3 separate regions of the Homo sapiens genome follow, and all the other regions are linked to region 2. Evidence: fine-mapped expression QTL. A gene starts in region 2. Each other region holds a variant in brackets. All regions are shown on one strand. Distances are from middle to middle.

What was found. PIP is the estimated chance that this variant, and not a neighbour inherited with it, causes the effect.
Region 1: its variant is the best candidate, but not a certain one, in a credible set for the expression of ATP2C1 in whole blood (INTERVAL, PIP 0.58).
Region 3: its variant is the best candidate, but not a certain one, in a credible set for the expression of ATP2C1 in lung (TOPMed, PIP 0.63).

What each region holds. Positions count from the first base shown.
Region 1 is chr3:130,850,802-130,860,926 of GRCh38, reverse strand. The region is part of intron 1 of LOC107986023 (a long non-coding RNA gene); the gene reads left to right. It also overlaps a transcript of ATP2C1 not described here. Among named protein-coding and RNA genes, the nearest start is that of ATP2C1, 38 kb to the left of the region's middle. The variant A/G (reference allele first, on the strand shown) is at 5,984.
Region 2 is chr3:130,888,915-130,899,039 of GRCh38, reverse strand. ATP2C1 (ATPase secretory pathway Ca2+ transporting 1) reads right to left here and starts at 4,956. Exons shown (of 28, transcript NM_001378687.1): 1 at 4,703-4,956; 2 at 4,265-4,450. The coding sequence starts at 4,270. LOC107986023 (a long non-coding RNA gene) reads left to right here and starts at 5,119. Exons shown (of 3, transcript XR_001740492.2): 1 at 5,119-6,184. RefSeq lists a silencer at 4,702-5,091 and an enhancer at 5,182-5,401.
Region 3 is chr3:131,218,865-131,228,989 of GRCh38, reverse strand. NEK11 (NIMA related kinase 11) reads right to left here. Exons shown (of 18, transcript NM_024800.5): 15 at 302-462. Among named protein-coding and RNA genes, the nearest start is that of NUDT16-DT, 160 kb to the left of the region's middle. The variant G/A (reference allele first, on the strand shown) is at 5,173.

The DNA.
Region 1 (10,125 bases), 38 kb after region 2:
CTTTAAACTTTGCAAAAACCTGTATTTCCACCTATATTTCTCATTCTAAAAAAGATTTAAGGTATCTTCCAAACACAATAGTTATGATGGTTTTATTTTCAACTCCTTTATCCTCATAAATGAGAGAAAATCTGAGGTCAAGGAAAAAAGGAAGGAAAAAGTAAGAAAGGAAGGAGTGAAGGGAAGAAGGAGAGAAAGGAATCCTATCTATGGGAGGTATCTCTGTATGAGGGAATGAATTGGGCTTTGAGGTCAAACAGACAAACCTGGAGCTAAAATCTCAGAGTCATCATTTATGAGCTATGTAGCAAGTTACTTTACCTCTTGAAACCTCAGTTCTCTCACCCACAAAATGGGGATAATACCACTGACTTTGCAAGGTTATTATGAGAAATAAATTACAACATACGTAAAGCACCTTGTCAAGTGCCTGACACATATAAGGCATTTAATACAAATTTAAAATATTTTATTCTTGAATGCATAACCTAAGTTGTATCTCCTGAAATAGCCTTACTAATATGCCACCTTTAGGGTGAGTAGGAAAGAAATAATTCCAACATTTTTCCTGCTCTCTTCACAGCAAATCATGAGCAGTACAACATATGTGGGTATTTTCATTTTGTTTTCTGTCAAGACATGGGACTGTCTGTACAAGGTGCAAAAATATGTCATCTTTCATTCTGAACAAAAGCTAACGAAGTGTAGATGAACTGTCTAAAACATGGAATGGGATAGCAAATTTAGGAATCTTTAAAAAAGCTACACTGTCACAGAAAAGGGTTTTGCACTTTATGTTTGTTTTAATGAAAAATAATCATACATTAACTGTATTAGGGCAGTATCCAAATTATCTTTCTACTATCTCTTCACAGAGTATTTAAAAACCATCACTTTATGAGGAGGTGATTAAAGACCCTGTGGCCCCCACAATGTAGGAACAAAATATTTTAGGATGGATCTGTTAACTTTTAATTGGTAAAAACACTTATTTTCTAGATTTTTTTGATGCTTGTGATATTTGTCATTCGAATTTGTAATTTGTTGTGATTTCTAATTCAATTTCTTATTCTAATAATGTGCTTATTTCAAAGACAAAGCAACAGTTTTGATATTCATCCATTTACTGACTCCCATGTTTCAAAGGCACCAGAGCACAGTAGGTTAGAAAAATTTTAAAGTAAATGAAGGGATTAAAAATAGCTCAGAAATCAACCCAGGGTCCAGGTGTCTCTTAGGCTTGTCTGACACTTCACTGCTGTGATGCTGTGGACAAGAAGGATGGAACACCTTCAGAAGGGACCATAATAAACGGCAAGTTGCCAGCACTGACTGCATTGAAGAAAATCTGAAGGTAAAAGAGGCTTGATTGAAGAAGAAGAAAAAACAACAGTGGTTAAAGTGCCACAAAATAACCTGAAATTTCTTGGCACCCCCATTTATCAATGACTGCTATGTATATTTAGCTATTTATCGTTATACTGGAAGGGGTTAGATAACTTACAAACTATGGATTAGAAGTAGTTAAGTGGTCGATTAGGCTTAGAAAAGCTAGTCACAGGTACATAGCTCTTCACTTGAGGTCTTTGCTAGATGTAACTTTTGTTTTTTACCTTGACGGAGAATTACATGCTACTCTAATCACCAAAGGCATTTGATTCTGTCTTCTTTGGTCTTAGACTCTAGAGCAACATGCTAAGACTATGGAGTATTTACCACTAACCAAATAAAACGGGAATCCTAACTACACATCTATGCCCTCTGCCCTCTCCTTATTTCTAAAATATCTGAATTGTTCATCTCTCTATTGCCTATTATACTAGAATATCAGAGCTGGAACCTAATAAGTCATTCAGTCTTCTCTTTTATGATGCAGAAACCATTGCCACAACATCCCCTAAGGAGGGGTCACATACCCCCGCACTCTGCAGAAGATAATTCATTTCTTTACCTTTCATTTTTAGAAAGTTCATCTTTATTAGTATATCATAATCCCTCCCTGCAATTCTACCCATTGGTCATGGTTATTTCCTCCGGAACCTCCCAAATGCATACCTATCTTTCTTCATGAATTAGCCCTATGATTCTTAAGTCCAATACCTTAATCACTCAGCCATTCTGGTACTACAGCCCTAAGATTCTTACAAAACACATACACAAACACATATACAAAAGCAGTCATGTATCTTCCTCACAAAGTCTAACATCCAGGATTATTTCAAGTACTTCAGTCTCAAGATAGAATTCATTGCACCCCTACTCCCCACATTCACTAATTCCACAAACTTGTATTCAGTGCCTTCCATCTGTCAGGCACTTTGCTAGTCACCTGGGATACATCGGGAATCAAATAGCCCCCACAGAAAGATGCGAAATTGCTACTAGGATAAATACAGCAAAGGACAGTTACCAAGTGCCTTCAAAGGATGTAATGAAGCAAGGTGGAAAAGTCAGAAAAGGCTGCTCTAAAGGAGTTAATATTGAATTAAAATCTGAAGGAAGAGTAGATACTAACTGAGGGAGGATAGAAAGATGATTATTGGAACAGATGCCCTAGCCAGGAAGTAGCAGGGAAACTTGCATACATAGAAGAAGTGTGCTATAGCTAGGGTTCAGAGAACAGGGGGTGTGATGGTTAATATTGAGTGTCAACTTGATTGGATTGAAGGATGCAAAGTATTGTTCCTGGATGTGTCTATGAGGGTATTGCCAAAGGGGATTAACATTTGAGTCAGTGGACAGGGAGAGGCAGACCCACCCTCAATCTGGGTGGGCGCCATCTAATCAGCTGCCAGCACAGCTAGAATAAAGCAGGCAGAAGAAAGTGGCATGAGGAAACTGGCTGAGTCTTCCGGCCTTCATCTTTCTCCCATGCTGGATGCTTCCTGCACTGGAACATCGGACTCCAAGTTCTTCAGCTTTTGGACTCTTGGACTTAACACCAGTGATTTACCAGGGGCTCTCAGGCCTTTGGCTACAGACTGAAGGCTGCACAGTCAGCTTCCCTACTTTTGAGGTTTTGAGACTCAGACTGACTTCCTTGATCCTCAGCTTGCAAACGGCCTATTGTGGGATTTCACCTTGTGATCGTGTGACTCATGTGAGTCAATTCTCCTAATAAACTCCCCATCATATATGCAAATATCCTCTAGTTCTGTCCCTTTAGAGAACCCTAACTAACACAGAGGGGCAAGGTCAACATGCAGCAGGGAGAGAATCAGAGCTGGACCATACAAACCCCTCCACATTAGGGAGCTTTGTCTGTATCCAAAAAGCAAATGGAAGCCAGTGAAAGATCATAAGCATGGGGCTAGGTGGTAGTGTTCAGAAGACCTCTCTGACTGTAGTGTGGATTACTGGGAGACCAATGAGGAAGGTATTACAGTATTTCAGGCAAGAAGTAATGACGGTCTTTGGGCTAGGGTGGTGAAAGAGGGAAGTAGACCAACCGGTTTGGGAGTTTTTTAGGGGTAGAATTGAATGGAGTTGGTGATAGATTAAATATTGACTAAGGGAGCAGAAAGCACCAAAGATGAACCTAGGCCTCTGCCTAAATATCAGGATGGTGATATTTTCTTAGATAGTGAAGACATATTTGGGAGAGAGAAAGACCATGAGGGTGGTTGCTGACAACTAGAAAGCCATTTATCTTTATGCAAGCTATCAATGATAACTCTCAGGCATCTTGTAGATAATGTGAAAAACCATTGGTAGCTTTTTATTTTTTGGTAAATACATAGCTCATTTAAAAAATTTCTCCCTTCAGATAGAGGAAAAGGTTGTCATTACCATAATAAAATAGTTCCACTTTTAATGTCACATTTAATAATCAGAAATATTAAAGTTCAACTTCATGTTGTCACAATTTAACTGTCAATGTTACCTATATATAATTATACAAATTCCTCCACAGGAGTGGCATAGACTCTCTGTCCTCTATCTTAACCCATTTGTGCCCAAAGTTACAATTTTTTGAATTTTTGCAATCAGACCTTGGCGATGGCCTTGAGCAGTAGGATGTAAATAACTCCCACATGCTTATTGTTCCAATAATGGAACACTAGGTATAAATGAGATAACATTTATTAAGTTCTACAAGGAAAATCTTTTCCTCCTGTTTGTGAAGGACTGAAATTTTTTCTACTCAAGCACAAGCACAGGGGGCAAGGTCAACATGCAGCAGGGAGAGAATCAGAGCTGGACCACACAAACCCCTCCACATTAGGGAGCTTTGTCTGTATCCAAAAAGCAAATGGAAGCCAATGAAAGATCATAAGCATGGGGCTAAGGGGACATGGAGAAGCACTTTTAGTTTCCCCTCAAATATCATTTGAACTGACAATGGATAGCATTTCATGACTTTTCAAAAAGACTTTTTACAATGAATAGCTTTGGTATACACTCAAGATATAACCAACTTACTGACTTTATGGAGCTAAAAACATTTCTTAAATCAAGTTGTAGTGAAACGTCTATCATTTTACCTAGAGAATCAGAGCCTACATCAGCAACCTCAAATCCTTATTTAGCCTTGGAAATCTCAATATAGTTTTCTTTGGAATGGGGAGTTCTTAATTTTTATAGTATCATTCAGAGTAAGTATGAGAGCCAAAATGCAGAAATAAGTTTCTAAAATTCAAATTAAATTCAAATATTTATTTAACAGTGCAACTTTGAGGTTAGCATTCATTAAGAAACAGAGCAGCAAAGAAAAAAAATTCCAGTGATCCCGTTCCAACTAGAAACATTTTCTTAAGCCATTGAAAGGAAACTTTAGAACAGCTTCCAAAACAAAATTTGATTCTACTCTGTAATTAAAATGTAGCTACAGTACATGCCCCCTGGGCCCAAAGACCACTCTCCTCATTTTAAGCAGATTCACTGTTAAACAGGCAAGACTTGTCAGATCAGCCCTTGAATGGTATTTCTCAATCAGGAAAAAAAAAATCTCTGTTCAAGAGAGCGAGACATTGGTACAGGTCATCCCAAATTCTTGTAGATTAAATTAGCTGGCCTGTGTTTTCTGACTCCTTCTCGGCTTTCCTCCTGCAGGGACACATAGAAGTGGGGATTCAGACTGGCGAGGCTGCTGAAGGGCAGTGTAAGTTGAGGGACAAGGCAAAAAAGAGCAGGCTCTGCTCTGCCTCAGTCTCTCATCAAAACGTCTTATTTGTTATTGACAAGTTGACAAGTTGACCCTCAGGCATCACCTATTCTCTGGACCCATCCTGTAGAGTTTTTTTCTCATATGGCCTTTTTCTACATCTCTGCTTAGGGGTTCACTATACATAACAGAATGAGAGTCAAGCGAACCAAATTCTAATCCCAGCACTGACACAGATGAGCCATGCGAGCTTGGGCAAATCTCTTAGTTTGTGACACTAGTTTCACGTCTGTAAAATAAATTCCTCTACATGATTTCCCCTAGATCTCAACAGCCTCTGCTTACTAAGGATAATAACCCTATTTTCACCATCTCTTACCCTCACCTGCATAAAAACACCTCAGCCCCGTGAACCCTCCAACCCCACGGCTTCTCTAATACTTACAAAGTCCCCTTTTTCCATTCAATTACATTAATTTATCATCTATGTGCCAGATTTATGCTTAGCACTGGGACTAAACTAGCAAACAAAATAATATCATATTCCCCGCATTGAGCTAAAATAAGATTTTCATTTAAAGCAGAAAATTCTGACTGCTACAGGAGACACAGATTGTAGGATAACCAGAGTGAACATGGAGACACGAATTGGAAAACTATTGCAATAGTTCAAGTAAGAAAAGATGGTTGGCAGGATTAGAAGGGTGAAGATGGAGAATTCAATAACTATTTTAGAAGTCTTACTAAAGGATTAGGAAGGGGACGTAAGGGGGAGAAAGGGAAAAAGAGAGGTGCCAAGGTGACTCCCAGGTTTCTGGTTTGAGCTTTTGTGTTGATTGATGGAAAAACCTGGGGAGGAGCATGTTTGGAGCTTGTGGA[A/G]TTCTCTTTGGACACATTCAGTCTGCAACATTCACAAGACATTCAGATGGAGATATCAAGTAGATGATTGGATGCAAGGCTGAAGTGCTCTGGGTATAAACATTTGGGAGTTTTCAGCAAATAGGTGTTTGAAACCATGGGAATAGAAGAACTCACCCAAGGAGAGAGAGTAGACTGTCCCACATGAGCTGACAAACTGTCTTCTCATTGTTTGGTGCTAGCACCCATATGTAGCCCAGGGGTGCTGGCCCCTAAGAGCAGTACTCCCCAGGGGTTCATGAGGTATTTGGTTCTTGGCAGGCATCTCCAGGCTAAAGCTAGACTATAGTCAGCCCAGAAGTGGAGCAAATTCTCCCTTCCACACTCAGTGTCCCGCTTGATCACCTGAGCCACAGATCAGGCTGCTGAGTCTCTAGTACTTAGGGGAACATTGCCTGCAAGTCTCACTCATTCCTTATAAACTAGACACCAACATCTGAGCCAGGTGCTGGATGTTGCCCTCAGACCAAAATAAAATAACCGAAACCAAACACCCTTATGCGTGCGTTCAGCACACCTACTCAAACTCATCTGAGACTCCATTTAGGCTCAGGCTGCCCAACGTTCACCACCACCACTGTTACTACCACACCATTTGAATAATTCTGAGAGAAAGGTTAACAAATTTTCCCAACCTTCAGCATCTTCATCTCATTAATGCTGTTAATCTTCTACATATGTGGGGATTTGGCTTTGTGAAACACTTGCTGCAAGAGAATCTAGGGAAGCAAAGGATGAAATATTTGTTCTCAATTTGATAAATAACCTACCAACCTATTGATGGCTGTATCACAGGAATAACACTACCACCACCAGAAAAAGCTACCAAACAAATCAACCCTCATGTCAAATCTTCTTGTCTGTATGACACCAAGTGCGAGAAGAGCACTAGGAGAAGTTTTAAACAATAAAGCATATGTGAACAAGGTGAGTGTAACAATGATCATAATTTGGACCACAGAAAAGGGGTATGGGGAACTTCTAGGCCTAGTAAAAACAACAAAGGAGGTCTGTGTCACAGTCAATCCAGTGTGTACCCTCTGCCTGTTGTGTGGGTCACCTTTACACCAGTATCTGCCAGGCTCCAGTATGCCTCAGGGAACAAAGAACAAGATAACATCCAGTGTCATGTGTGCATGGGTGCACGAATATCGACATGAAATCACATGATTTACTACATAGAATGTAGTAAGGGCTGTGTCTGAAGCAAACAAAATATCTTGGAAAAGGAAGACTTCATTCTTCCCAGCAGCACTGGAGAAAGCTTTTCACTGAGCCCATTTAATCCAAGTATTGAAGGATGTACAGGAGACCTCCAGGAGGGCAAGTTGTAAGTAAAGGAGAGAATTCTAGGCTAGAGGGGGGAGTTCATTTAAATGTGCAAAAGTAAAGAAGCAGATGGTGTTCTGTTATAATATTCCCCAAGTATGTGGAAGTCAACATGGTTGGTACTTAGCAGCGCTAAGTGAGGTGGGAGAAGATTTTAAGTGGCATGCAGACACTACATTCAATAACACTGAATCATTTTGGATTGAAAAACATTATCTACCTTTTAATTCCTTTCCATCCTCACCCAGGAAACTTTCTCAGTTGGCTCCTAGGATGCTCTAACCTTTCTCTTAAAAGCTAATCTTCCTTATTAACAAATGAGCAGGTTTCAGGCTTGGAGGTTTTACAGGCAATAGTATCTACCTAGAATTTAATACTGTTTTGCTTTTATTAATTATTTTTACTTACGGCTAATGACAATGGTTTTCCATTTACAGTCATGATATGAACTTTTTTTCTAAATAAACTCTAATAATGTGATTTAAGTACAAATACAGAAAAATATTGAGGAATTAATCATACAGATGTGGTAAACAGTAAAAATTATGACAGTGCTATGTGAATATAGGAAATTTTAGAAATCTCTCAAGGAGAAAAGTTAGCAGGGTGATATTTTGCTATTACTAGATTGTTCAGGGATCAAGCGTGGTAAAATGAATAAAATTTAAAGCCATGAGATAGAAATTCACATCTTCCTCTGGTACTTTCTAGCTGCATGGGCAAGGGCTCTTAAGGGCTCTAAGTCTCAATCCCTTCACTTTTATATCAAGGATTAGTTATACAAGAATGTAAGGATTAGAGGCAACAAATATGCAGGTCATAAGATTGTAGACATTATTAACCTCCTTTATAACTTCCCAACAAGCTTTCAAGGTTAGTTATGATGAACTCTGACCTAATTTCTCTAATTCTGTGAGACATTAGGTCTGCAGAGCTGTAGTTGGCTTTAAAAAGAAATCAAATATATTATTTCTCTTAATTATTCAATTCACTTATATAAGAATTTAAGAACTCAGCATAATACTCACTCCCAGCTGTTCCTAGGTTGTCCCAAATGGTTGTACACTGGGGAAGGGACTACCCACCCTGTCCAAGTCAGAGGTTTTATGTTAAATTCTAATGGTCTTCTGAATGCATTTTGTAATACTTCTTCAATAAACTAAAAACAAAGAACCATAGAACTACACAAGCAATATAGCCACATCTCTGAAAACTTACAATACTGAGAAAAAAAAAATCACTCAATTCACATTCCACAGTTGTGTTCCCATCCTTTCAGCCACCTCTCTTCCTTCCATAATAAATGAGGCCTGAAGAAGCCCGTGAACATTAAAAGATTGGCAAACAAAAACTTATACAGCCCTACCACTTGGTTCTCTAGCTTTCTACATCAAAAGCAAGTGCAGGCTGAAACTTGGAAACCAAAAGTTGGTCTTTTAATGGTGACACCTTGCCTAAGTAAGATAAACTGGACCAGCCTAGCTCCCTTAGTGAACAGAGTCTGTTTGAATTTCTGGCCCTTGTAAAATTATTAAAGCAGGGCATACAAGCAGTTTCCTCTCAAACAGTAGCAATGATTTTTATTTTCCAAATTATGCATTGCCTTTTTGGGAAACCTGTCATGAGAGGATTTTCTGTCTGCTAAACCTATCTTGCATTTCCTGGAAGTGTTTTATTAAGTGGGTCATCTCATATCACAAAGGAGAAAAAAATACAGGACACTGGTGATATCTCCTGCATAGTTTTGCAGTTCTAGTTACAAGCACAATGCACAAGCAATTTATGACTGCTGGGTCTTTGGTATGGCTATACATTTGTCCTTCACATTTGTATACCACCGCCACACTTCTTCCTAAATGAATCACTAGATTTAAATGGATCAGATATTGCTACTTCTTCTAACAATTTGGTAAAATTCATAAAAATCATTTTTAGAAATGTCTTTTTTGGAGATCAAAGAAATGGAATGATATAAATCTCACACCATAAAAATGACTGCATGATTTTAAATGAGATGTGATCAGACATTTTAACAGTTTTAAAAATGCTTATATTCCCAAGTGATAGTGTCTCCTGCTGGAAATCATAGCTTTTGATTGGCTAAAAAGACTGAATATGGCAGTGCTCTACCTCCTACCTTTTACACACACAAAAATGACCAACTGCTTCTGAATGATCTTTATAGCTTGTTAATGATCTGTTTAAGGTTATTATAGTTTATAAAATGTTTTTTGTTTTGCAAATTCTGGCTATGTAAACATAACCATAAATACAAGAAGACAAGTGTACTTCTAGGGTCTGATACTTTCTTTGTTGAGATATTAATAGTGTCAAATTTTGTATCTGAGGCATTGGAAAATGATCAAAGAATTCAAAATTTAACTTTGATAGAGTAGCTCTTTAGAAGAAAGAAAGCATGTGGCTTCATTACAGAACTCCGCTTAATCTCAGGATCTGAATGTTCCAAGTTTAAATAAATTCTCACAAGCCTGCTTGCTTTCTGATTGCCAAGTCTGAACAGCCACAAGCAGGATCTGACCTGTACCTATAAACATGTAAACCAGCACAAATGAAATCACTAAGCGACGTAAAAGCAACAAGGAACAAGCACCCGTTCATTTTAAAGATAATATAAACAAAATGATACCTGTTCTTCGGCTCTTTGGTTTCTCAGCGTCGATAAATATCTCCTAATTGCATGGAGAGGATATTTTTTGAAATAAGAGAATCTAGATGGAGGCAACAGACTATCCATAGTGAGGAAAGCAAGAGGG
Region 2 (10,125 bases):
ACATGAAAAGCATAAAGATAACCTTGTCACAACTGATGCCTGAAACCATTATTAAAAAGAATTTGTTTCAACAAAGTAAATGTGAGGGGACCTCTTGAACTGATCCTTAAGATATTTTAAGATGCTACATGTAACAACGGTGTAATTTAAAATTCATGCTAACTTTACCATCAAGCCACAGTGTTCCTGGCACCTTTAAAACAAAATTTAACCTTGCAAAACAGATCATGGCTAACTAAGATCTCCAAAATCAGTCCTGGGCCCCTAGGGGTGTGTTCCCTAGGAAACTATTTTGTTTCATAATGCTTTGCGTTAACAGACCTGAATTCTGCTGACTTTAAATGAATGACAAAAATATGAAGACAAATCAAGTATTTGGAATCCAACTGTCAGAAGGTTATTGCATACAAGTACTCTCTACAGCATCCTCTGGCTTAAATTACTACAGTTTACAAAATGTCATATATATAATCTCTTTTAGTTTCAACTCTTTTTCAGAGTACTAATTAAGACTATCATTTTATGGACAAAACTGCAAACAACATAAACTATATTTCCCACACCCAAAGATATATTTTTATAACCTGGTTTCCTATTTTCAGTTAAAGGAATAAAATTAAGGTGGCTTCTCATCCCTTTTTCCCTATAGCTTCTCCAACTATAGTAATGCAATTTTTTCTTGAGACATTCCTAGCTGATTAACAATTTGAAATTGAATTAAGAAACTGCTTTTAAAAGTAAAGTGTAAATACAACCATTTTCAAACAAAAAAGATTGGGGCATTGTTCTCTACACCTATTAGCTCTGTCTATAATCTTAAATTAACCATGTCCTGAAATCCTGAAGACTATTACATTTCTATCCACTAGTCAAACATTTAAGGCTATATTAAAGTTTCATGTGTATTAAAGTCACACTGAATTTTCTATGGGAAAGGCCAAATTTATTCCAAAAAATAAATCCATTACTAGAAAGGAAAACCTATGTGCAAGCTTCTCCAGCTAGACATATCTTTTCTAGTAAGCTATCACTTTAAACATGCAATTAACTTTTAAAAATCAGGTAAGAGCTGTTTACTTGTGCATCTCAAGATGCCTAAGCGGGATCTGTTTAGATTTGTGATAAACATGTAAAAACAAATTCCAAAGGATCTGGATAAAATCCTAACTCACGACTGAATGTTAAGTAGTCCAAAAATTCCAGGAAATTAACATTTTAAACGTTCCTAGTGACAAGCAGAAAGTGTTCATGAAACATCCTGGAGTCTACAGCTAAAAATTGGTCAAGCTTTGCTGAGAAAGTTTAAATGGGCCCTAGGAAAAAAGTCCAGAAGAATCTAAACCGAAGTGCCAAAGAAAATACCACCATTGCTGAAGGAACCAACACATGGATGAAACCATTTCCTCCCCACACCACTGTAAGCTACCTAAGAAACCTTCATGCTGATGCTCTAGGGAAACACTATCAATTCTACACTGTTCACACCCACAAATGTAACTACCTGCATACCTACTGGAGGATACTCTTACTAGGGAACAGCAGCATCACTCAATTCATCCAAGTTAACTGTATGTCAAACATTGCTCTGGCGGCTTCATTTATTACTCACATCAACTTTGCAAGAGGGCATTATCTCATTTACAGATGAGATAACTTAGAGGCTGAGAAAGCTTAGAAGCCTAGTAACTTGTCAGATTTTTCAGGAGAGGAAAACATTACTTGTCGGGCTTCAAATCCAAACCTGTCTCTTTCTGTACTGGACCCTGGCTTCTTGGTAGAGCCCTAACTTTTTCTGTAGGCTTAAAAGCACTAATGCCATAGAAAATTCCTTACCTAACTCCACTTATCCCTCAACTAACAATGACAACTTCATTTTGAGCATTTGGCTACTACTGTTCCCCCTTCCAACATTTAACTGTCATGACAATATTAATGCCAGGTGGCCTATTAGTATGTATCAAACATTCAGCTAGGCAATTTATAATTAACATTTACCGAGCACTTACTATGTGCCAGATACTGTTTGAATGTTTACAACAACCTCATAAGGTAGGTTCTATCATTATCTTTATTTTATGAAGAAACGGAAGCACAGAAAACTTTAATATGCACAAAGCCAAATGGTAAGCGACGAATCCAGCATTCAAATCAGTCTGCATGGTTCCACCACAACTCAAGCTCTTAAACGTTATCATTCCTACCTCACAAGAGAATTTATACAGGGTTTCTCATTTAATCCTCTCAATTCTGTGAGTTAAAGATTATCAATCCCAATTTATAGATGAAGAAATACAGGCTCAGAAAGGTGACGTAATTTACTTAAAATCACACAGCTTTAAGTGGTTCAAGACAAGTTAGTCAAGACTTGAATCCATTTTTGTTTCACACCTCCAAATTGTTAATACTACACTATATCAAAGAAGGATGAAAACTACAAAAAGGCAAGTGAACAATAAAAAGGCACAGGTATCAATCTATGTAGTTTAATATGGTCAGTCACTTTTGAAAATTTCTAGGCTATATACAGGCTCTTCTTCAAACTGTTTATATATAAAAAAAAATGTGACGATAGGGAGAAACTGACAAAAATGGTCTCTTGATGGTCAAGAATAACGGGACAGAAAACCCCACACGTTTTTAAGAACTGTATAATCTTTTACTATGAAACCACAAAATTCATATTTGGCCACAAAATACAGAGACAGACACAAGTAGGCACCATTCTCCTATCTCACAACCACCCCCTCCCACCTCAGTAGATAATGAGAATCGGCTTTATTACTCATGCTCTTCCTCCTGAGAGATCAAGAAACAAAAGCAACATGAAAGAATCCACCTACTTTAGGCTACCCTCTTAAATCTGGTACCATTCTGAAAACAAGCTCATAAACATACATTAAATGTTAGAAGTTATTTAAGATGTTTCTACCAAGAAACAAGTATATGAATGCATTTAACATTCTTTGTCTCATGTGCAGAATGGATTTGCCTTTCTTAAATCAATAAACTTAAAAGAGAGGAAAAAGGCTCAGAAAAGTGACTTTCCTTATCACCAAAAACATCACTGCTTTCAAATGTTTCTCAAGACCCAATTAGACAGTATAACTCCTCTGCAGTTATACACTTTAGTATTTCAGAAAATGTCTTCCGCCAATTATCCATCCAGAGTAAAATTTGTCAATATAATCATGCCTCTCATCATATTCCCTACATAGCCCAGAGGTCTCAGAGAGCAAAACACATTACTGCATCTATAAGAAACACCCATTTCAAAATTACTAGTCCTAGTCAGACAATCAAGCTTACATTCTCAACAATGGAAAAACAAATTAGAAGCAGCCAGCAAGACTGCAGCTCCTTTATACCAGACACATATTTTTTAAAACAAATTATACCAGAGGAAAAAACTGTCATTTGTTAAGTATCTTTTATAGTATTTTGCAGCCCGGTTAAAGGCAGAAGAAAAAAAAATGATCACGCACAAGTCAGAAGTCAGTCCAAAGAATAAGTGTTGTTTCAGGAGGGGGAAAAAAAATCACTTATTCACAGTTGTTCAACAATTTTAAAAATAATCAGTGCTGTGTAGGAAAAGCATTAAATATTTTAACGAGGCCAAAGGGATCATGTAACATGTGAATGACGATCTAATGTGTCCAAAGTGTACAGTGAACAAACAGGTTCCGCTGTCAGCCTCCTAAATGATGTTTTGAAATAGGGTGGAACTTTAAGAAAAGCACTCATCTCATAACATTTCATTAAATTCACTGGGTTTTTTTTGTGAATTGAAAAATAATGAGTTTTTTCCCCAATGCTAGACATAATAAAACATGGCTTGCTTTCTTATAAATGAATCCTGCCACACACCACATCGAGGCTTGAAACGCCAATATACAGAGATGCAGCCCCATCCCCTTGTCCCCCATTTCCACTTCCCCTCGAGTAATTCCTTTCAAATAGCTATTTAAACATGCACAGACGCTATCTGAAATGAAAACTTCCCTCTCATTCCCTAAGCTGAAGAGAGCAGGAATTCCTCAAGAAAGCTGAATCAAGCTCAGTCACCCACAGAACCTCAATCTCTCAAATGCCCCATGTTACCAAAATAAAAGCTGGATACCCTAAGTAAGCAAATCCTTGGACACTTCACATACACAGTAAATAAATAAGCTCACGAAAATAAAAAGGTGGAAAAACAAAGACAACTTAAAAGCAAACCACCACACCCTCAACTCCGCGTTGCAACCGGTCGGCCAGGGGCCTTTACCTTCATTTTCCATCGAAACTGCACTCGGGTTGATGGCTACAAAGTCTTTAGTGTCAGCCACGGCCACACTGGGAATAGAGAGGAGAGGAGGAGGACAAGGAAGAGAAGCCCCCGGAATCCCAGGCTGTCACCCCCGCTCCCGGCCACGCGTCCCACGGCTGCTCCCACCACCCCTAGCAGCAGCATCTGCAAGAGAAACCAGGAGAAGCGGCGCTGACGAGAGGCTGAGGAAGGAGTTCCCCGCCCAGCCACTATCTCGGGAGCCCCCCTCCCCAAGATCCCGCACCCGCCCCGTCGTGTGCCCGCAACGTCCCCAGCTCACGCCAGCGGGGCGGCGCCCTAGAGATGCCCCCCCATCCAGGGGATACCCGAACCTCCCCTTCCTTCAGAACCTGGAAGTTTCTAGAAATGGGGGCAGGAGGTAATACTGGTACCCACCCAAAGCCCCGGACAGCCCTCCTCCAGGCTGCGGGGTCTCAGCCGCGGGGCTCGCGGGGGCGCCCCGCGCGCCTCGGGAGAAGAGGAGCTGCTCGCGGGGCAGCGGTGCGAGGCGGGAGCCTGCTCCCGGCGTGAGAAGAAGCGAGCGGGAGGGAGGAAGGGAGGGAGAGAGGGCGGGCGGGGAGGGGAGAGAAGAGGAGGTGAGGGGACCCGTCACGGTCCGCCGGGCCGGCTCCGCGAGGCCGTGCTGGTCTGCTCCCGCCTCCGACTCCTGCGCTCCGCCCCTCCCCGCCGCCGGCCGCCCAGTCGCGCCCCGCACTCCTGGGCCAGCCGCGAACCCAGCTTTGTCACTATTACTTCCGCTGAGAGAGGTGCGCGCAGGCGCATTCGTGTTCACGGGCTGGGAAGGCGGAAGTGAAGTGAAGGCCGAGACTTCGGCCCGGAATGGACAATGTTTGGGTTTGGATCCGTCCGGTAGGAGGTCGCTCGGGGTTGGTGGCCCGCCTTGTTCTTGCTGGCGCCTCCCTTACCCCAGGGACGGTGTCCGCCCGTTTATATGCACCCCCTGAACGCGAGGGTCGGAGATTCGCCCACGCCCCGTGTCGGCCACGCATTCCCGTGGGGCGGCCGCGGGGTCGGCCCAAGCTGAGAGTCATGGCCGCTGTCCCCGAGGCGTTTAAGCGCTCTCTACAAAGTCTGTAGGGGAAGCTGCTCCCGTCGGGGTGGCAGTCACAATCTCAGCAGGCAACGTTGAGGCCCACGGAAGGAAGGGGCGAGGTGTCCATGCTCCTGCCAGGGACTGGAGCACCGTGAGCAGCCTCCCGAGTCTCGCACTCTCACTTGCAAAACCCTGCACTGACTGCTTGGTTCTTGGGGGAGCCGGTAATCGCGGGGCGACTTCCCAAAATTCTTTAAGGGGTGTGCTTAGTTACCATGTGTAATGAGAGAGCAAGGTTCAGCCTCAGAGAGCTCCAGGGAGAGCTAATCTTTTTCATTCGTTTGTGGTATATGGAACTGGGGAGAGGCTGGAACAGCAATTAGAAACCAGTCGTACAGCTGTCGAAGCCAATGAACGAGCACTTCTTTTAGCAGCTGTACCTTTGTCCAGTGTCAATGCCTTTTCACACGTAAACATTTCACTTGCTCGGCATCTTACCCAGACCCCTAATAAGTGCTTTTTAATGAACGATTGGTTTTAATAAACCGTGGTGAGCCAGACATATAATGTTGAACAGAAGTCCTCTCACACCCATAACCACTAGAGGGCAGGGCTTCACCTACTGAGTTGGTGATCATCCTACAGAGAACTCAAAAGAAAATTTCCGTATATGCTAGATGTGTTTTTCTCCATCAACACTTAGACACTTTACAAATTTGCTTTTTATCTCAGGTCCTGTAACATATCGCAGTGTGCTCTCTAACCACACGTTCAACATCAGAATTAACGGACGGGGTTGCCTGTGTTTCTATATTTGTTCCCAAGTAAGTGGTACTAGACTAGGATTGAAAATTCTGGACAGCTTTCTAGATTTACCTTTCTTTTAAGAAATATTGAACTTTTATTCAGCGAGGTCACTTTTAAAGATGAACCCATAAAAATCACTATCAAGTAGATTTCTAGTCTTAACGAGTTAACTATGATCCACCTCTGGCATGCATGGTCAGTGATTTTTGTCTGCACAATGACGGAGCCAAATTAACGGACGGGGTTGCCTGTGCTTCTATATTTGTTCCCAAGTAAGTGGTACTAGACTAGGATCGAAAATTCTGGACGGTTTTTAGATTTACCTTTCTTTTAAGAAATATTGAACTTTTATTCAGCGAGGTCACTTTTAAAGATGAACCCATAAAAATATCAAGTAGATTTCTAGTCTTAGGAGTTACTATTTATGATCCACCTCTGGCATGCATGGTCAGTGATTTTTGTCTACACAATGACATAGCCTGTGATTTGTACAATGATTGTGATCTCTCGTAATCAATTTGTAACAGTTATTACTGTACATATTCGACCTTGAAACAGCATTATATTAAAAACAAAAGCACCTAAGGTAGGAAATTACACAATATAAATACTTTGATATTAACATATGCATTTACAAAATAGAGGGTAACTGTACAGAATTTGGTATTGGGTCACTTTAGCTGAAACATTTTTCTAAAGCAACTTTTCAGAACTATCTGTTGTATTAATATACTGCAATACTCTAGCATTAACACTGAATCTATAACTCCTCCAAAAGATTTATAGCTCCATGGTTTATTCCTAAAATGACTTAAACTGAAATTTTACTTTTGGTCCCCTAAATTATGAAAATCATTGTTCCTATTACTAAGCCAAAAAAGAAACTGGTAAGATCAAGATCAACTTTACCAAGAAGAATTGACCAATTAGTCATTTTATATAAAAAACTTAAGCATCTGGAAATTTTGGTGTCTGAGGGGGTTCTGGAACCGATCCCCTGTGGACAATGAGGGATGACTATATACATATATATGTCATACACACACATATGTATATGTATAGACAAACATATACACATATATATGTATATTCATACACCCACATATACATACACACTAGCCTTCTTTCAAAAGATTTTTGTAAGAATCTCATAAAGTAAGTGAACACAGGTTGCAAATTATAAGCACTATAGAAGTATAAGATTATTATAGAGAGAATCAAGGAAATCCCTGGAGTGTTAGCTAGCTACAATGGGATTGATGGCAATGAAACATATTATTTCCAAGTTTCAGCTTATTGCTTCCATAGAAATCAAAGCTCTAAAAATTCTTTCTACTCTCCTTTTGTCCTGAATATTTAACCTACAAAATTAAATGCATCTGATGCAAAAAGTGGTCACGTGCAAGAAAGGGAAATTTGTCAGGCTTTTCCGCTTGGGGGAAATATTACAAATGGGAAAGATTGAAGAAGAATGGTCATGACATTCTAATTTTCTTTATACTGTGCTTTATTCCACAAAGGGTGTGCGGTATCTTGTTTTTAATATCAAATTTGATAGCTGCATTTTTATAAACCTGGATGGTACAAGAATATGTGGTTCTTTAGGGATTTAAAAATTAAAACTTGGAAAAAATTATTTTAAAATCTTTCCTCAATTAATTAATGTCTTCTTTTAAAGGCTGTTTTAATGTTGTTTAAAGTACCAGAGGTTAATAGTTAAGAAATTTCACCTAGCTGCTAGAAAAGAAATTGTAATTTTATTTTAAGTTGAACATTTTATTTATTTACTTACTAACTTAAGAGACAGAGTCTCTGTCGCTGAGGCTGGAGTGCAATGATGCCATCATAGCACACTGCAGTCTTGAACTCCTAGGCTCAAGAGATCCTCTTGCCTCGGCCTACCAATGTGCTTGGGATTAGAGGCATGAACCACCATGCCTGGCAAAGTTGGACACGTTAAAAACATATAAAGATGCATCACTTTATTTTTATAAGCTAACCTACTCCAACAGAACAACAGAAGTATTTTTCTTCTTATAAGATAAAGGACATGCTAAATGTCAAGTTTAGAAAACTATAGTTTTATTGCCAAGAGTGTTGTACGAAATCAGTTCCTAACAAACATCTACCAGAATTGCTATAAATCTGCCTAGTTCCATGTTTTGGCAGTGCTGGAAGATTAAAAGTTGGAAGCAAGAATAAAAATTGAAGGACTCATATGAGCTACTTGTGTTTGGTTGGTTTTAATAGCACCCAGATCCAGATCCCCAAGTACTCTACAAATATTTTATCACTCACAAAATTCCATAGCCTCTTTCACACTTGCTAGCATTTTAAACATGAAATATTTGATGAAACTGAGATGAAATGAGAGAACTTATACTCTTAATTTTTATTGTTAAAGAAGTTTATTTCAAGTATGACATAGTCTCTCCATTCATTGGCTCAGATTCTGAGCCAGTGGTAATATTTGGGATCTTATATACTACCAGTCTTCTGGATTAGACATGAGTGTCGATGGGATGCATGTGAAAATAAGAAAGAGGTAAGAGCAAAGTGAGTGTGAGTCCCATGACCCAAGAGTACCATGACCAATGAACTTCATCATTTCCATGGAAAACAGACATACAATATTCCAAATTATATAAACTACAGGATTTGTTTTGAGATACAAAGGTATCCATTTAAATGATAATATTCCACCTAGTTTCCAAACTAGCATAATTCACCTCTGGCCCCAAAACATTTGACAGCAGTAAATATGTAATAAAGACCTATTAAATAAATGGATAGCCTGAAAAATGTTTATCATAAATATTTTTTGTTGAATGAATAACAATCTACTTGTTTCCTATGATCAAACTAAAATCCAAGCTCCTACTTTCCTGTAAAACCAAGAGGACTTAAGGGATTTTTAAGAAGTTTAAGGGTTTCTGGTGCATCTCACACCTGTAATCCCAACATTTTGGGAGGCTGAGGCAGGAAAATTGTGTGAGCCCAGGAGTTCAAGACCAGGCTTGACCACATAGTGAGATCCTGTCTTTACAGAAAATAAAAGCATTAGCTGGGTGCAGTGGCACACACCTGTGGTCCCTGATACTCAGGCAGCTGGGGTGGGAAGATTGCTTAAGCCCAGGAGGTCAAAGCTGCAGTGAGCTGTAATCATGCCACTGCACTCCAGCCTGGGGGACAGAGCAAGAAACTGTCTCAAAAAAAAAAAAAAAAAAAAAAAAAGTTTAAAGAATAAACCTACATCTCCAAAAACCACAAAGGGGTTAACTAGGACAACATTATCTGAATGGGAATAAGTCCTAATTGTTGTAAGAAATGCTCGATATTGAGCACTGCCCAGAGCAGATAAAATTGCACACCCAGATTTTGAGCCCAGGTAACCATTTGAAATTAAAAGATAACAGTGTTGAGGTGCTTGTTTCCATGCATTTGAGAAATTTTAGCTGAGCCTGTGCTTTTGATTTTGATGGCATGAATATTAATGCCTGACAAAAAGCATTGTACACTAGGTCCTCGAATAAGGTCATTTTGTTCAACATCATTTCATTAAATGATGAGAAAAAAACATCAATTACTGGTAGGGCCACTGTATTGAGTTTGCACATTCTCCCTGTGTCTACATGGGTTTTCTCCAGGTATTCTGGTTTCCTCTCATATCCCAAAGTTGTGCATGTTAGGTTAATTGGCGTGTCTAAATTGTCCCAGTGTGAGTGAGTGTGTGTACATGTGTACCCTGCAATAGAATGGCATCCTGTCCAGGGTTGATTCCTCCCTTGAGTGCTGAGCCGCTGGATAGGCTCCAGCCACCTACAACCCGGAACTGGAATAATTGGGTAAATAATTACCTTATTTGTTTTATTAATCTTTCTTAAATGTATGTATAACTCACATTTATTTCAGTGTTTAATATTCGAAGTGTTTTGGAGAGCAGAGCAAGATGGCGGAA
Region 3 (10,125 bases), 330 kb before region 2:
ATAGCTGTATACGAAGCCCTCCTCAGTGGGAATATGGTGTGTGCCATCTCCCAACCCCCCAAATAAGTGCAGCATGCTCCAGTTCTTCCCCCATCAACATGGTCCAGATCAGATTCTCCAAATTCCATAGGGCCCTGCCTGCCTCTGGACCTTGAAAAGCCAGACTTACCACAAGTAGCTATTATAATAACCCTGTTCCCCATGTCCCCAACTTCACCTTATAAGACTTCCTTTCTTCTCTGGGAGAGTCCAATCAGTACCTTGAACAGTTCCATGGCTTCCGACAGGGAGCATTACATACCTGTTGGTTTGTTCTGTAAGCAGGCTGGGATCCCTCATTCCTGATTTCTTTCTCTGGTCTTTCTAACGCTATTTCTTCTTCCTCCTCATCACTCTCTTCACAATAGGAATCAAATGCATCAGCGTAGTACTCTTCAGCCACAAGTGGGTCTTCTGGGATCTCTGAAATAATGAACAAACAGTCAGATACTACCAGTTATTAAAATTATAATGAGGTAAGAATACTGTATCTTTTCACAGGGATGTATATTTTGCTTGCGTTGACAAAGCTTCCATGGAGTGTAGAGCTGAATCTCAGCTTCCTGGAAGTATTTGGTTGAATGTAATAAACACTCAGCAAAATAAAACCAGTAGAGGAAAGGAGGAACATTTCCATTAGCAACTACCGTTTGAAGGTAAGAAAAAAATCATTAAATAAGAATAAATAATATGCTTTAACATTTTGACATTTGGAGGCATGAATCCTTATTAAAAATGAGGAAATTTAGGGGCAAAGGTAGGACAAGATGTCCTGGCTGAAGGGTCCTATTACACAACACACATAAAGTTTTTAGCATAGGAAGTTGGAGCAAAACTACCACAGCATTTTTCCTAGATATTTCTTTTTTTTTAAATGTTACTGGTAGGACCAAACAAGATGAATAGGATATATAGCAGCATCATTTTGGCAAGCTGGGAAAAACACAATTCTTTTCTAACAGGTAATGATGGCTTTTGAGATGGAGTTCACTCTGGTGGGTCCTACTTACTCAACCTTACATTCAGCACTTATTTTAAAAAAGAATACCCACCTAAGCTGATGACAATAAGCATCTACCCAAGTTACTTGATGCAACATTGTTAGTAACTAGAATAAAGTTGGTGTTTATAACAATCTTCAGTGAAGAAAGGCCATGAATGGATCACAAGAAAGCATAACAATATAATTTACTAATGGGGGGCTAGAAATAAAGAACTACCCAAACAACTACCCTTGGGCTGGGGGAGGAGAAAATTAGAATACTCAGCTGCAGCAAAACAATGGGCATTTTAGACTTTGCACCATACTCAGACTTAAAATTAAAATTTTTCTTCCAAATTGTAACACATTATTTTTCAATCTATTGTTGCTATTTCTGGTCTAGTGGGAAAAATATGAAATTTGGGGTCAGAAAATCAAGGCTAGAATCTAGCTCTTCCACTTTTTAGATGAAAATTTGTGCAAGAGACTTAAACTCACAGAGCTCCAATTTCTGTGATAAAATTAACATAAGTGTAATCTAGTAGAGTGGCTGCTGAGATTGAGTAATAGAATTCTCATGAAAGCATCGGTATGCAGGGAAGTTTCATACAAATGTTCACTCAATTTCCAAGTCTGTACAAATGGGCTTTTCATTAAATGAGTCCAGAATCCTTTGAAAGTAAGATACTTAATGGATGTAGAATTCCCTGGAAATAGAAGATGTTAAAATGTGTTTGTTATCTATGGTTTCCCACTAAAACATAAAAGGCTGCTGTACAGTAGAATAAAAATTAGTCAGCTCAAAAGACAAAAATTACATATATTCAAAATTGCCTTTGCCAGTTCCTTAGAAAGCAGTGTACTAGGGATCTCATACCTTCTCTCAGCAATTTCAACACAGCGTATTTTTTTTTTTCACATCAGTTCAGATCACTGATTTTCAGCTGAGCAACAGATGAGATAGAATACTGTTATGGAGAAGCCATAGTTTTTATTATTTTTATTATTTATATTGAAATAATATATATTATTTTTATTAAACGTGGCTTCTAGTCATTATATCAAGAAGACACCTGCACGTGTCTGTATGTACACATATATATATAACATACCTATACACATATGTACATGCATATAGAACTTCAATACCTTTTGCATACAAGTGGTTTTTGGTTACATGGGTGACTTTTGTAGTGGTGAAGTCTGAGATTTTAGTGCACCCTCACCGAGTAGTATACACTGTACCCAATATGTAGTCTTTTATCCCTTACCTCCCTCCCACCCTCCTCCCTTCTGAGTCTCCAAAGTCCATTATCCCACTCTGCATGCCTCTGTGTACCCATAGCTTAGCTCCCACTTATAAGTGAGAACATATGGTATTTGGTTTTCCATTCCTGAGTTACTTCACTTAGAATAATGGCCTCCAGCTCCATCCAGGTTGCTGCAAAAGACAGTATTTCATTCTTTTTTTAATGGCTGAGTAGTATTGCATGGTGTATATATGCCACATTTTCTTTATCCACTCATCAGTGATGGGCAGTTATGTTGGTTCCATATCCTTGCAATTGTGAATTGTGTTGTGATAAACATAAACGTGCAGGTGTCTTTTTGCTGTAATGACTAGAAGCCATGTTAATAAAGATCTTCATTTTACTTACACTGAGAACGACAAGAGAATCACAGCATGAGAAGTGTATGAAAACTAAAATCTCCTGAGAGATCTCCAGTTCTGCCATCAAGTAGGGACATGTGCTTGCTGAGTGGAATGAAAGACAGAACCATATGATGTCTTCCTTCTCTTGCCCACCCTCAACTCTCCCTGAATCTCTGTGTCTCTTTCTCTGAGTTGTCCATTCTCCCTCTTTCCCCACTCTTTTCTACTTCCTCTCCCTCTCGAGTCTCTTTGTCCCTTTGACAGTTATTCATTCTCTCACTCATTCATATTTTTCCCTCTTGCTCTCCCATTTTTTCTTTATCTTCATTCCTCCTTGTCCACTCCCTTGGCTTTCAAACTACGACATGGTAAGAAATATCATTTACATTGTTGCCCAGTGCACAGAAATGTGCTTATATATGTATGTTTATAAATATCTTTATAGTCGAAACAAAAGTTTCATACACCAAGACCTATTTACCCAAACTACATATGACACACTCTGGTGTTTTTCATCCTGTTCAATTATTTTTTTAATGCTGGTTGCAACTCACTAAACTGACCTCTCAACCTGCAGTTTGAAAAACACCCCAACCTAGCTAGAGAGGCCAACATTCAGAAACACTCCTTTAGAATGCTGGCTTTGGCATAAAAACAAAATCTGCATTTAAATCAAGCCTCTAGCAATAGCTCTGTAACACTGTGTTATTTAAGCTTTCTGCACTTCAGTTTTCTCATCTATAAAATAAAGATGATAATATTCATCTCATGGAATTGTTGTGAACATTACATAGTATAATGGATGCAAAGTATGTATCAAATAAGGCAAACACTCAGTAGTTTTTCCTGTAATACCCAACACCAGGAAGAAATAAGTCATGCATCACTTAACAACGAGGATATGTTCTGAGGAATATGTCATTCAGGTGATTTCATCATTGTGTGAACATCATAGAGTGTACTTATTACAAACCTCGATGGTATAACCTACTACACATCTATGTTTATGTGGTATAGCCTATTGCTCCTAGGCTACAACCCTGTACAGCATGTTACTACACTGAATACTGTAGACAATTGTAATACAGTGGTAAGTACTTGTGTATCTTAACATTAAAAATGTACAGTAAAAATACAGTATAAAAGATTTTTTAAATGGCACATCTGTACAGGGCTGTTACCATGAATGGAGCACGCAGGACTGGAAGTTGCTCTGGGTGAGTCAGTGAGTGAGTGGTGAGTGAATGCGAAGGCCTAGAACATTACTGTACGCTACTACAGACTTATAAACACTGGACACTTAGGCTACACTACATTTATAAAAAATGTTTTCCCTTCTTCAATAATAAATTAAGCAGCTTACTGTACATTTTTTAAACTTCTTGACTCTATTGTAATAACACTTAGCTTAAAACACAAACACATTGTACAGCTGTACGAAAATATTTTCTTTTTTTCATATCTCTCCTAACTAGGAGATAGTCAATAAGCATTTTTTCTTTCTTTTTCTTTTTCAACTATTTTGTTAAAAATGAAGACACAAACATACACATTAGTCTACTGCTACACAGCGTCAGGATCACTGATACCACTGTCTTCCACCTCCACATCTTGTCCCACTACAAGGTCTCTAGGGGCAGTAACACACACGGAGCCTCCATCTACTGTGATAACAGTGCCTTCTTCTGAAATACCTCCCGAAGGACCTGCCCAAGGCTGTTTTACAGTTAATTTTTTTTAATAAGTAGAAGGAGTACACTTTAGAAAAATGATAAAAAGTATAGCAAGCCAGGCATGGTGGCTCACTCCTATAATCCCAGCACTTTGGCAGGCCGAGGCAGGCAGATCACCAGAGGTCAGGAGTTCGAGAACAGCCTGGGCAACATGGAGAAACCCAATCTTTACCAAAAATACAAAAAATTAGCTGGGTGTGGTGGCGCACACCTGTGGTCCCGGCTAACTGGGAGGCTGAAGTGGGAGGATCACTTGAGCCTGGAAGGTGGAGGATGCAGTGAGCCGAGATCGTGCCACTGCACTCCAGACTGGGTAACAGAGTGAGACCACACCTCAAAAAAAAAAAGTATAGTAAATACATAAAGCAGTAACAGTCATTTGTCATCACTATACTGTACATAAATATATGCATTACACTTTTATATGACTGGCAGTGTAGTAGGTTTATTTACCCAGCATCACCACAAGTATGTGAGTGGCTATGTTGCTCTGCAATGTTATGATGGCTATGATAGCACTAGGTGTTGGGAATTTTTCAGCTTCATTAACTGGACCACCATTGTACATGCAGTCTGTCATTGACCAAAAGATTGTTATGCAGTGTATGACTGTATTAGACAATTGCAAATATATACTCAAGTTTAAAATATTTATTTATTTTAAATAGAATAATTTCTCAAAATCCATACTGAACCCAACTGAAATGGGCAATATGGAATCTCGCCTCTCTGTGGTTTCCTTTCTGTGGACTCCACAGGAACCC[G/A]CAGGCATTTCACCACACTGTTCACCTCCCACTGTCCTTCCTGTCCACTGATTCCGTCAAGGTTTCCTTCAAGCAGCTCAGAAGAAACCTCTGCAAGGGGGGTTGACAAATATGTTCTGTAAAGGGCTAGATAGTAAAACAATTTTAGGCTTTGCAGATTACGTGGTCTCTGTCACAACTACCCAACTCTGCCTTTGTAGTGTGAAAACAGACAATACATAAATAAATGAGTGTGGCTATGTCCCAATAAAACTTTATTTACAAACATAGGCAGTGGACCAAGTCATATCTCTACAACACAGACAAACCTTTCTTTTGTTAAAACACTAAGCTCCTCTTCCCAAAACGTAGCTCATTGTGTACAGACAGCCTTAGTCCCTTTCCCTCTCCTACCTAAGATTTCCTCCTAGAAGGGGAAGAAGGAAAGAAGTGGCCAGGGAAAAGTGCCATTCTGCCACCTAAGTTATGAAACAAACTGGAATGAATCTGTCTCCAGTATTTCTTAAGTAAGCACCACTAATTTGGTGCTGCCCACAAAAGGACTCATTTTCATTTTCAAAGGGAAAAGTCAAAAAAAACGTAAGTCCGTTCAAACTGTGTTTGTCACGCCTCATGTTTTTCATACATAGACCCAACTTGAAGCCTTCTTAGCTTAAGATTCCTTTCTCCTGTCACTAAGGGGAAAAGAGTCTGATAAACAGCTTTAATTTCCTTGCACCCTGAAGTCAGCCTCATAATGGGTATACTGGAGTGGCATTCCAGATCTTCTGTATGCCAGGCAAGCAGTAACAGAATGTGTTTATGAAGGAATCCAATAATGGCTGCACGAGTTTGGACACAGATGTTTCAAATCCATGCTGGAAAAACGAAGACATCACCCTGTTCCAGGAAAATGATGGCCTTTATCAGATCCTTCAATTAAGACCCAAATAAATGCCTTTCTCTAAGACTTGTGTGAGCATCAGGATCACCTGTGGGCTTGTTAAAACGGATCTCTGGGTCCCACCCCAAGACTTGCTGATTCAGCAGGTCTGGTGTGGTACCTGAGAATCTGCATTACTCACAAGTTCCCAGCTGATGCTGATGCTGCTGGTTTGGAGGCTGCCCTCTCAGAATCACTGCTCTAGAATGTGACTAGTTCAAATAAGAGTATACACTATAATAAAATCTAAAAGATTTTATACTATTTCTACATATTTCAACCTTTGTATGTTAAAGACAAAACATAAACGTAAGAAAAACTTTACCTTAGAAGAGCTCGAGTTACTGTGCTATTAGTTGTCTAAATTACTTAAAATCTCCATAGAGGTATAAGTAATTCAACTACTCCCATTTTGTTGATAGAAAAGAACAAAGCTAAGGGTGAGCAGCCCAAAGTTATAATCTTTATATTTGTGTGCATTTTACAGTTTAAAAAGCATGCTGATATACATTTGATACCACAAAAATTTGATACCATTTAATAGCACAAAGATACCATTTGATCTTTGCAACAACTCTTCAATGTAGACTAGAATGACATTTTTCTGCCCACTTTTCAGATAGGAAAAGTAAGGTTCAGACAAGCTAATGACCAACCGAAGGTCACACTGCTGCATCTGAATCCCCTTTCTTTCACTGAATAAGTCTATTTATGGTTAGTTAGAAATTTTCATCTTTGCTAGTAAAACCATTTCAGAAAGGTCATGATTATCTTTCTTGTAGCTCTGAAAGATATTAGACAACAAGGGATAGACTTTTGACTTACGAGATAGAAAAACTGAAGCTTAGTCATCCTGGTAAACCGTCTTAAGGGAGCTGGGAGAATCAGATTCAGCCTGAGCCTAGTTCTCACTACCATCTATCTCAGATGTGTCAAACTTGAGTGTGCCTCAGAATCAGCTGGAAGCCTTGTTAAAACAGATTCTTGCTCCCACACCCAGTGTTTCTGATTCAGTAGGTCTGGAATGGGGCTTGAGATTCTGCATTTCTAACTATGCCACTCGTCTGGAAACACACTTTGAGAACTATTGCTCTATCTTATAGAACCTTCGAGGAGAAAATGACATACAGATGCAACTGTTAAATGAAAAACTCCCTGTCACTTCATCTACTGCATTAGCTCTTTAAACTGCTAAAACGATCCAGATATACATTAACAATTTTTTTAAAAAAGAGTGTTTTCATAAAACAGGAACTTTGCCTGAAGAGAAAACCAAGTTTCCTCTAAAGGAACTTAGTTCCTTTTAGACATTTAGAAGATCTCAGCCTGTGGGCCCACCACCATCCCAGATGGTTTTAACCATTAGAATGCCTTAAGCAAATCCATGTGACAGGCTTCCCAGAATGGTTCTTAAAGGGTGGTCCCCAGAATAGCAAGAACAACATCACCTGGGCTCTTATTAAAAATAAAAATTTCCAAATTTGCCTATACCTCCAACCTACTGAATCAGAAACTGGGATGAAGGTCCAGCAATGTGTGGTTTGACAAGCTCTCCAGGTGATCCTGATGCACCCTTAAGTTTGAGAACCACTAATTCAGCACAATGACTGGCACTTTATGTCTGCTGAAATAAAAATCCCTTCTAATATTCCAGGTAGATGGTAAGCTCCAGGAGGGCAGAGGCCACACCCATCCTGCTTACCATGGTATCCCCAACACATGATTCAAAGCAGACACCCAAAACTTCTTGCTGAATAAATGAGTACATAAATCTCTAAGAGATAAGGACTTTCAAATTGCCACATAATATCATATACAAAGAATTAACTAATCCTTTGGGAGAGTAACGTGGAGAGGGGAAGCTGAGGAGAGGAAGGAGATACAGATGTTTTTCCTAAGACTCCCCCACCCCTTTCCTCTTTTTCACATACTTTGAACTTATATCTCAGATGTAGTCATACCTTCGAACTGCAAAAAATGTCTTCATCGTACTAAAACTTCCAGTTACATCCTGCAGGCCCACTCAGTCAAGTCCCAGAACTCAGTCAAGAGGACCCAGAGTGTGACAGCAAATGCTGTTAGGCTGGAGCTTTCTCCAGGTGCCCTAGAGTCTGCCCCGGACACCCTGCCTCTCTCTGCATATCTAATCATAGTTCAGCATTAAAGTTTGCGGAGCTGGCTGTCATGGGGCAGACAGAGGGTGGGTGGTGGGAGCCCTCAGCAGAAGGCAGCTACCAAAAGATGTCCATCTCTATTTGTCCTTTCTTTTCTAGTTTTCTGAAGAGGGTAATGGCTTTATTACACCAAGCCAGAAAATACTGAACAAGGCTATTATAAGGCTCTAATAAGAACAAACTGATTTATTCTTGTATCTCAATGTGGCCTCTATGAAGACCATGTTCATTCATTACAAATTGGGAGTGGCAGTGCTTAGAATGATTACAGTTATTATTTGTATTAACATGACAGCCATCAAAGCATTTCTTAATTTCCCAAAAATAACATTTGTGGGTGTGAAAAACTGCTCAAATTCATTTTTAATAAAAACATTAAAAATAAAAATATTATTTTCTCATATGTATAGGAAACCTATGATTAATATGCTACAACGTCCCCAAAACCATAAGATTTTTTTTTACCTTTTACATAAGGTAAAAGTCAATACTTTGAGAAGACACACAGACATAGGCATTGTGCTGAGTTGCCTCAATTTCCCCCAGAAGCTCCATTTTGTATAAGGTAAGCACAATTTAGATGAAAACAAAACAAAACAAAACAAACAAAAAACCAAAAAGAAATTGAAGTCAAAGTTAACTGGTGACATCTGCTGCTTCTGAGAAAAACTGCCTTGCAACAGAAGTGATGATACAAAGTAGTGACTAGGAGGACCACCTGTAGGGTCAGATGGCAATCAAATTCTGCCTCCGTTGCTTATTGGCTGTGTGACCTCAGGTGGGCTACTTCACTTCTCTGGGTCACGGTGTTCTCATTTGTAAGTGGGTGTAGTGGCTACTATCAATGCCCCACACAAATTCTCTTCCCAGACACACTCCAAAGTATAATTGGCACACCCTCGTCTGCTAGCTGCTGTGCATGTTGGCTGCTGTATTAAGTCAGCCAGAGCTGTAATGAGAAGATACCACAGATTGGGTGATTTAAACAATAGAAATTTATTTCCCAGAGTTCTGGAGGTTGGAGATTAAGGGGCCAGCAGGGTTGGATTCCTCTGAGGCCTTTCTCCTTGGCTTCCCTCTTGCTGCTTCTTCACAAGGTCATCCTCTGTGCATGCATACCCTGGTGTCCCTGTGTCCTAATCTCTTATTCCTCTTTTTTTTTTTTGTATACTTTAAGTTTGGGGATACATGTGCAGAACATGCAGGTTTGTTCCATGGATACACACGCGTCCTGATGGTTTGCTACACCCAGGTTTGCTGCACCCATCAACCCATCATCCACATTAGGTATTTCTCCTAATGCTGTCCCTCCCCTAGTCCCCCACCCCCTGACAGACCCCAGTGTGTGATGTTCCCCTCCCTGTGTCCATGTGTTCTCATTGTTCAACTCCCACTTATGAGTGAGAACATGCAGTGTTTGGTTTTCTGTTCTTGTGTTAGTTTGCTGAGAATGATGGTTTCTAGCTTCATCCATGTCCCTGCAAAGGATGTGAACTCATCCTTTTTTATGGCTGCATAGTATTCCATGTTATATATGTGCCACATTTTCTTTATCCAGTCTATCATTTTTGGGCATTTGGGTTGTTTCCAGGTCTTTGCTATTGTGAATAGTGCTGCAATAAACATACATGTGCATGTGTCTTTACAGTAGAATGATTTATAATCCTTTGGGTATATACCCAGTAATGGGATTGCTGGGTCAAATGGTATTTCTGGTTCTAGATCCTTGAGGAATCACCACACTGTCTTCCACAATGGTTGAACTAATTTACACTCCCACCAACAGTGTAAAAGCATTCCTATTTCTCCACATCCTCTCCAGCAACCCTATCAAAAAGTGGGCAAAGGATATGAACA